2 separate regions of the Homo sapiens genome follow, and region 1 is linked to region 2. Evidence: fine-mapped expression QTL. A gene starts in region 2. The other region holds a variant in brackets. All regions are shown on one strand. Distances are between the middles of the regions. Region 1 overlaps STARD8 (StAR related lipid transfer domain containing 8). Region 2 holds the start of STARD8 (StAR related lipid transfer domain containing 8).

Region 1 (4,387 bases), 37 kb after region 2:
AATAAGGATGAGCATTCTTGTGAGAGAGAAGTGCACATGTAACACATTTGGTGGGTTAAGGAGGTGTGTTCTGGGAATGCCACCTGCGTTAACTGGGCAGTCTTGTGGGTGCTTTGAATGCCAGTCTTAGAAGTGTGGACTTGTCCCTGTAGGTGATGGGCAACCATTTCTAAAGCTAGATCTTTGCCACAGAGTGTGGCAGAGGACTCCTGTGTGAAATGCTAGTGCTGTATCCACCAGCTCAACAGGTGCTAGGCCCAAGAGACTGCCACCAGCCAGGAAACAGTCAGTTGCCAAATCTGAACGCTGGACCAGCCCTGTGCATGGCTCAGCCCCAGGATTAGCATCGATATAGGGAAAGGGGCAGCAGGGAGCCCCCTTGTCACTGCCCTCAAGGAGCTGATCTTCTAATTGGAATAAGGCCTGCTTCTGCCAATAATCAAATCAATCATCCTGGTGGGAAGTGGTGGAGGTAGGTAGGTAAGAGAAACTCCATGTGGCCTGAGAGGCAGTATGTACAGTGGTTACTAGCTAAAGCTGACAGTCCAAACTGTATGACCTTGGGCAAATTATTTAACCTCTCTATGCTACAGTTTTCCCATTGAAAATGGTAGCAATAATAATTCAGCTTATCATAGAGTTATATATGATGATTAAATCATATATAGAAAGTGCTTAGAATGCTGGCTCACATGACAAACACTCCATAAACCTTAGCTATTCTCAGTGACTAAGGGCCTATCTTTTACTGAACCAGGTGCCTGCTACCCCTGGGGTACAAGGCCATGGCCTGGAGGCATATGAAGGTATTAGACCGGTATGTCTCCTCTTCCTGGAGTGTACATTTTCCTCAAAGGCTTAAGGAAGGAAAAGATGAATTTTAATAAGAAAACAAGGATGCATACTAGAGTTAACTGAAAATTCAAGTGGATGTTTAAGATAAAAGCTGGACTTCAAAGACATTCCCACTTGGAGCCAACACTTCAGGTTTACATCATCAGCCCCCCAAGGTTTCATCACATTCTTCCCTCTCAGCCCTTAGGGGTACTTGAATACAAAAGTTACAGTAAAACAAACACTTGTGAATTCAAGTAACTCTCAAGGGGGTCCAATCATTCTCTGGGGGTAAGGATGATTACCACCGTTATATATGGGTGAAGATGGAGGCTCGAGGTCCCAATCCTGCCACTGCCACTTATGAGCAATTTGGATTACCTTTGCTGCTTCTGAGTTTCTCCAACTGTAAACTGGGGTAATGATGATGATATATATACTTCAGAGCATTGTGGTAAGAATTAAATAAGCACTTAGAACAATGTCTGGTATAGCTTGTGCTCAATCCACATCAGCTTTTATTAGATCCATTCTTGCATCTCCTCTCACAGCACCATTGTCAGCTATGTGTCATATTATGTCCATTATCTGGAGGAGAAACTTGAAGCTGTGGAGGTTCAGTAAGGTGCCCCCTCTCCTCCTCTTTGCTAACAGCAGGCATTCCTGCCTGGAGTGGGGAGGTGGTGGGAATAAATAACCTCGAAGGTCCTTCCCAGCAACAGGGCTCTGTGACTCAAGTGAATCTTCGGAGCTCTTTCATATCACTGTTCTGGCTGGAGCTGAAGCAGCAGAACTCAGGAAATAGGGGTGGGACTGGACAGGGCGGGAGATGCCTTAGCAGGGTGGGAAGTGACTGCTGCCGCCCTTCCTTCTAGGCCGCTGCCACTGCCGGGGGCTATGTCCCACACTCCCGCCCAACCGGAGAGCAAAAGGGAAACTCCTCTGCTTGGAGGAAGCTGACTGAGGCCTCCTTTTCC[G/A]CGGGCGGCGTGGGGGAGGGGGCTGCCCCTGTGAGAGGCGCAGTGCAGGGACTACTCGAAACTCAGGAGTCAACGGGGTGGCAGCAGAAAGCTGGGCCCAGAGAGGGGCATCCCAGTGGCTGTTTGTCCTGCCTGGGCTAGTCCAGAATGGGGACTGCTGATAGGCCAGAGGGTGCTGGGAGAGACGGGCTTCCCATTGATTTATGGTCATTTGAAGGGAAAAGGAAAATAATTCCATGAAGTAGAAATGGCCTAGTGGAAGGAGGAGCAGAGTCAGATCTGCCTTGGTTCTGAAACAAACTCACTGTGTGACCTTGGACAAGTCCTCTTCCCCACATGAAGAATGCATTCATTCAGTTAGTAAATATTTTGTGAACACCTGCTATGTGCCACCATTGCCCTGGGGAAAAGGGATGCATGGCATGAAGATCAACATGTTAACCTCTAATTTCCTTCTAGCTCTGACACTGAGTTCATGAAAAGTGGGTGCAAATATCATGCAAATAAGCACATATCAACTGGAAACTGCACTTCCTTTTTCTAGCTTATCCCTCACAAATGGAGTAGCTTAGCTCTAGATTCCAGGAACAAGGTATGGAGACAGTAGGGGGGAGGGGCTGTGACCTTCACCCATGTACCCCTTTATCGTTCACAAAGCACATTCATTATTCCCATCGTGTCATAGGAATATTACCCTCATTTTACAGATGAGGAAACTGAGTCTCAGAGAGGAGAAATCACCCAGGTTATGCCACAGTTAGAGCAGAGGCCCTATTAGGATGTTGGTCCCTTTACTGGCCACCAACAGAAGTAGAATGGAAATGACCTGGTCTGAGAGCTGTTGGTAACTTTTGGCCTTATCTCCATTGAAAACAAATTTAACCAGGACCCCCCACCATCCCCAAGTCAGGTAATGCAAGTTTGCTTGCGGTGGTGGGGATTGCGTATTAGAAAAAACGGTTATGTACCTTAGAGTCCTAGTCCAGGCTTTTTTTGTGGTACACGCCAGGGGCTAAACTCTTTGAAAATAAAAGCTAATCTTTCTTAATGAAGTCTATACTCCGTGCCAGGCACCATGATCAGTCCTTCAGATCCTTACAACAGTCCTGCAACATAGAGATAACTGCCCCGGCCTAGATGATGGCCAAGTCATTTGCATTCTTGGGCCTCAGTTTTCCATCTGTAACATAAGGGAGTCTATAAGGACTGATTCCACTTCAGGATATTCTGGTACTAGAAAGATTTCAAAGTGTCGTTGGTGGAACCCAGCTGGTCGGTTGCTCAGGCCAGCCAGTCAGAGAATGTGGTTGCAGGGAGGAGTGAAAAGCAGGGGGCGGTAAAGGGAGGCCGAGGAGTGAGTCAGTCTGTCAAGATGGCCAGAGCCATTGTTTCCTTCTCCATCTGGCTGTTGCACAAGGCCTTCCTCCATGTCACATGGTTGGTGAGATTTGGGGGCAGACAGGAGGTGGAGGGGCTGACCCCATAACTAGGAAGACACCCCCACTATCTTGCACCGAGGTATGAGAACAGAAAGGAGAGGAATCAGTGGAGGGAAAACTCGCAGATGGGGGCCAAGTTGGAAAAGTCTGGAAAGAAGGTGACTCCAACCTGGAAGAAGGCTTCCTATGGTGATGGGGAGGCGGAATAGTTGAGTAGATGACTGGAGGCTAGAGAAGGGGGAGTTCCTGCTCAAGGTGGGGGCGTGGAACTTTCTAATTGCGACTGAGGGGGCGGGGAAACACAGCCATCATCCGCTCAGCCCCTCCCTCCCCGGGCTCCCCGCGGATTCGCTCAGTCCCGGGGCAAAACTACCCGAGGCGCCAGCACTCCGGCTCGCCAGCTCGCTCTTGGGCTGCTTAGCCGCCTGGCACCGCGCGGCGCCCGCGGACACATGGCCCAGGCGCGGGGCTGGGGTCCGGCGTTGCGGTTCCCGAAGCCACGGACGTGGACTCCGTGGGGTGTGGAGGGCACCCGGTGGTACGCGCCGCGCTGGGATCCAGGTGAACTGAGAGCCAGGCAGCCCCAGGCGGGGAGGTCAGGGCTGAGCTGCGCTTCGCGGAGAGCTTCCCGCACCGGCTCTTCGAAGCTCCCTGCTCCCTCTGCCTCCTTGTTTGGTTCCAGCCCGGTTTTCATCGTTGAGTCCTATGTCCATTTGTCTAAAACCTCACCCCTGGCCGGCAGTGCCCCCTTTTGAGGCTTTCCACCCCGCACGCCTTCTTTCTTCTAATTCTTAGGCAGCTCTTGCCCCGCCCTATGGGTGCCCCATCCTCTTATCCCAGCAGTCTATCCGGCTTCGTCCCCACCCACCTCTGTCTACATCCTCCGCTCAAAAAGAACACCACTTTGGTTACTAACACGTGGTAGGCGTTCAGTAAACAGTATGTCCCTTTACACCCATTCCTCCAGCACCTTCTTCGTCTCTGCCTTTGGTGTCTGCTTGTTCACCCTCCTGTCTTCCTGTCCCACTATATGTCTAAACCTCAACCTGTATTTTTTCCTTGTCATTGAGTTGTCCGTCTGTCCTTTCATCCTTTTATTTTTATTTATTTATTTATTTTTTGGTCTCCAGATCGTTA
Region 2 (4,387 bases):
ATGGAATCATAATTTCTGTAAAAATCTGCACATGCCTTCTTCCTTGGTTTGGTCAGAGCAAACATAGAGAGCTGCAACCCTCAGGGAAGCAACAAATGCTCCAATAATATGAAACCCATGTGTCTGAGGTTTCATCAAAGCACTGGAAGCCATGGTAGTTATTATCCTTGATAGGTATGTCAACCTCAACACCAATATCCTTCCTGGCTGATGGAGAATGAGCCACAAATAACATATATTGAGAACGTACTTTATGCCAGACACTATACTACATGCTTTAATTCATTCTGTTTAAACCTCCCAAAGGAAGTAGGTACTATTATTATTCCCCATTTTACGGATGGGCACACTAAGGCAGTAACAGGCCCAAGGTCACCAGTTAAAGAGTAACAGAACTAGTATTGAATCCAGGCAGTCAACTTCCGAGTTCATGGCTTAAAACCACCTCAAGACAAAACTGGTGTGAGAGACCCAGAATTGAAACTGAAGTCTCCTGGTTTCTTAGCTTAATGTGGTGTGCTGCGCACTAATGCCTCCTGAATGAATGCCCAAAGGCACGGCTGACACATCTCCTCCCAGGGGCTGGAATGGAAAGAAGGAGGTGAACTCCAGAGAGTGAAAGACTATGAGGCCATCCTAGGAGGGCAGGCAGCTTTTCCTGTAATAGTTGCTTCCCAGTTCTCCATCCTCAGGTCTCTGGCTGCAGGGCAGGAGGGCATATGCTCAAAGGAGAAAACTCTCTCTGGGCTCTGACTCCTCGTGTTATTCCTCCCCCACATGCAGAGGGCTTCCCCTTATAAGCCTGTGCTCAGCTGGACGTGGGTTGGAAGCCACTTACCTTGGCTCTTGCTGACCATCTTCCCGACACAGCCCAACAGAACTCACATCTGAGACACCCCTGAGGTCGGAGCTAGAGAGAGGGTGAGGTCAGTGATTGCAGCCTCCTTGGTACAAACGAGGAAACTGAGGGTCACAGAGTAAGTTGTAAACAGAGCTGGGGGGACCCTCACAGAGCCTCTGGACAAACCTCCGGACAAAGCCACTGATGAAGAAAGTCCCCGAAGGCAGGTAGAGGCTTGCTTAAAGCAACCTAGGACCTTCCAGGGTCCCAGGACCTGGCTGTTTGCCTGACTAGCTTGGGTCTCTGAAACAGAAGTGAGGCCAGGGAGAGTTAGTTATTCTGGGCCTCATGATGACATGTGCCTCCAGAGACCCAAGCCTGGCCTTTTGCCATGGGGTCCCTGGGAGCCTTCTGGCTACCAGCCATGGCACCCTGCCTTCTGATGTCTGGGGAGGGGCTGAGAGAGGGGGAGGGTCACTGCTTCTTAATGGCTTTCTGCCCAGAAAGCCTCTAGAACTGCCTGCTGCTGACTTTCTTTCCTTTCAGGGCATCCAGAGGGTTCAAGTTTAGATTTCAGGCTAAACTTCTGGGCTTAGAGGGTCCTGAGCATGGGACTGGATAAAGGAGGGAAGCCATCATCTCTTCAGAAGATGTTCAGAAAAGGGCATACACCCAGTCTATCTGAGCTGGGAGAGAGCTGCTGTTATGCCCTGGGGCAGGGGGATGGATGAAATGGCATTTGAGGGCTCAGATTCTCTTTGGGGCAAGACCTGACTTCCTATGGACTCCCAGGAGCAGCAGGGGAGTTCTGAGAGGAACTGTGATTGTCCAGAGTGGAGTTTCTTTGAGACTTGCCCTGTACCTAACCCCAAACAGATTTGATACTTAGAGACCTCTAACCCGGCATCTCATTGTACAGCTGGGAAAACTGAGACCCAGGAGGAAGGGGCCTCTCCGAGATGCCACAGTGAGTCAAGAGTCCTCACTTCAGAGGGCTGGAGAATAATCTACTGAGGCAGGGCCAGGGCACCTGTCTGAGAGGGGCTTCTAAGGCTGCAAGCTTTTCCCCTTCCGTGGACTGCATTCACACCTTGTTCGGTCCTGCTGGGGCCGGGGCTCTCCTTCCTTGCCCCTTTTCCTTGGCACTCTTTCCACAGGCCCTGTGTGGTCTGGGCTCTACCGAGAGGTCCCCAAGGAGAGCTGGCGTGTCAGTCAGCCAAGAAGCAAGCAGGCAGGCAATGCCAGCATGCAGGTGGCGGGGCTGGCAGGGGAGCCGGCAGGAGGGCCGGACACCCGGAGCCGGGGAACTGTAATGTTCAGGGAATTTCAATTGGCATTGCTGTCCCGTTCCAGCCAACTGGCTAACGGTGCCGAGTTTGAATCAGTGACCCGCCTCCTGGTCCCTCCTCCTTAGCCGGCCTCTCTCCCTCCCTCCTTTTTTCCCTCCCTCGGTGGCCTTCCAGGAGGCGGGAGGCGCCCGCTGTCGAGGCAGCTGAGCCCCGGCAACCGCTGCTCTCCGCCTCTCCCCTCGCGGGGCCGGCTCATGGAGCGCAGGGACCGGGCTGGCTCTCGCCGAGCCCCGGGCCTCTTTTAGCCTCGTCCCCAGAGAGGGAGGAGCCGGTGCCCGGCACAGCCCCGCCGGCCCTAGAAGCTCCCCACGCGCCACCATGCCTCTGCTGGACGTTTTCTGGTCTTGCTTCAGGAAGGTGAAGGTAAGTGACTGGCCAGCCCCAGCCCATCCCGCTGCTCAGGGGGGAAGGAGGCAGATGTGGACCACTGCGCACCAGCTGGGAAAACGGACCAGACGGGCTTCTGAGACTACCTGAGGCTCTCGGAGTTAGAAAGGCTTGGGTTCAAGTCTCACCTTTGTCACTTAACCAGTTCTGTGACCTTCTGTTGCATTCCCATACAAACAAGTCTGCTAGTTGGCTCTTTTTAATAAAACTCGCCTCTGTTGCTTCCTGGATCTTGCCACAAAGGCAAGATACTTAACCTCTCTGAACCTCAGTTTCCTCTCAGCTTTAGAATGAGGACCATAGTAACACCAACCTTACGGGGTGATGAGGTTGGTGTTATTGTTTACATAGCAAATGTATGCAAATCCAGGAGATAATGTGTGTAAGCTTCCTAGCAGGATGCCTGGTGTGGAGCATCCACACAAACAATGGTATCTATTATTATTATTATTATTAATTTCTATCCATATATATAAAAGCACATACTCTGTGCTAGGCACCACTGGAGCTACACAAAGACAAAAAAGGGCTGGACACAGTGGCTCACGTCTGTAATCCCAGCATTCTGGGAGGCCGAGGTGGGAGGATCACTTGAGGCCAGGGGTTCAAGACCAGCTTAGGCAACATAAGGAGACCCCCATCTCCATTTTTTAAAAGAAGACAAAGAAGGACATGGCTTTTGTCCTCAAAGAGAATATAAGAAAAGTGACAAATATTTACCAGGCACCTACTATATGCCAGACATTGTGCTAAATAGTCAGTTTGTCAGTAAATATTTGTTGAGTGTCTACTATATCCTGGCCATGGGGGATACATGAGCACAGCCGAACCCACAAGTGTGTGTAAAGCATGATTCCACTCTCAAGAACCAAGAAACTAATATTTATTTAGTATCCACTATGTACCAGACCTAGGCACTTTTAATTCATTCATGTGGCAGTGATCCTCAGCACAACCCATTGTTTTCCTGCTTTTATAGATAGGGAAAAGACACTGTGAATAGTTAAGAAATATTTACAAGGTTGCTCAGATATGACTGGCAGAGCTGGGATCTGAGCTCCTAAGTCCATGCCTTTCTTGACGCTGTGTGGTTTCCCACAGTCCAACCCAGTAGGAAGACTTTCAAACGACTAGCCTGACTGTAAGACAGGATGAAAGAATGCTGGGACCTTTGGGAAGGAAAGATCCATTCCACCGGGAGGGACTTGGAGAGGTTTCACAGGAGGTCACATTTGGGCTGAGCCTGAGGCTTAAAGGAAGAGAAGAGTTTGTCAGTCCAAAAGTGGGGGAAGGGCATTCCAGGCATGCCTGGCAGAGGGAACTTCGTGAGCTAGAGTTTGGAGGCAGTCAAATGGTAGTGGGCTGGGGGAAAGGCTTCTTTCGTGATGTGGCTCAAATGTAGGGTTAGAGAGGATAGGAGCTTGAGAAAGGGAAGCAGAGACTACTTCCCAAAGGGTTTGGAATTAATCTGTGGATTCATGGTCCTCATCTAGTAGGGGTCCTGAATGAGATTTTTCAACCATCTGTGGTGGAATGAGAGAAAAGTAGGGATAATGTCGTGCAGTGTTCATAAAACTAAATTAATTCAACTCAAAGGACTATTCTTTATTTGGAGACTGTTGTGTCCTTCCTGTGGGGGTGGGGATTCAAATGATCTTTCTCCTACAAAATATGAGTGAGAAATTTTTTAAATGTCTGCCCTCAGCAAAATTACAAAGTTTGCGACATGCTGATTGTTTCCCTATTTATTTATTTAAGAACACTTTCCTCATCCATGAAATCTGAAAGTCTGGTGACTACTGTTTTGGGG

The links. PIP is the estimated chance that this variant, and not a neighbour inherited with it, causes the effect. A credible set is the group of variants that fine-mapping cannot tell apart.
Region 1: its variant is the best candidate, but not a certain one, in a credible set for the expression of STARD8 in whole blood (TOPMed, PIP 0.59).

What each region holds. Positions count from the first base shown.
Region 1 is chrX:68,682,740-68,687,126 of GRCh38, forward strand. The region is part of intron 2 of STARD8 (StAR related lipid transfer domain containing 8); the gene reads left to right. Among named protein-coding and RNA genes, the nearest start is that of STARD8, 37 kb to the left of the region's middle. The variant G/A (reference allele first, on the strand shown) is at 1,812.
Region 2 is chrX:68,645,375-68,649,761 of GRCh38, forward strand. It overlaps STARD8 (StAR related lipid transfer domain containing 8), which reads left to right and starts at 2,292. Exons shown (of 15, transcript NM_001142503.3): 1 at 2,292-2,553. The coding sequence starts at 2,509. It also overlaps the pseudogene COX6CP12.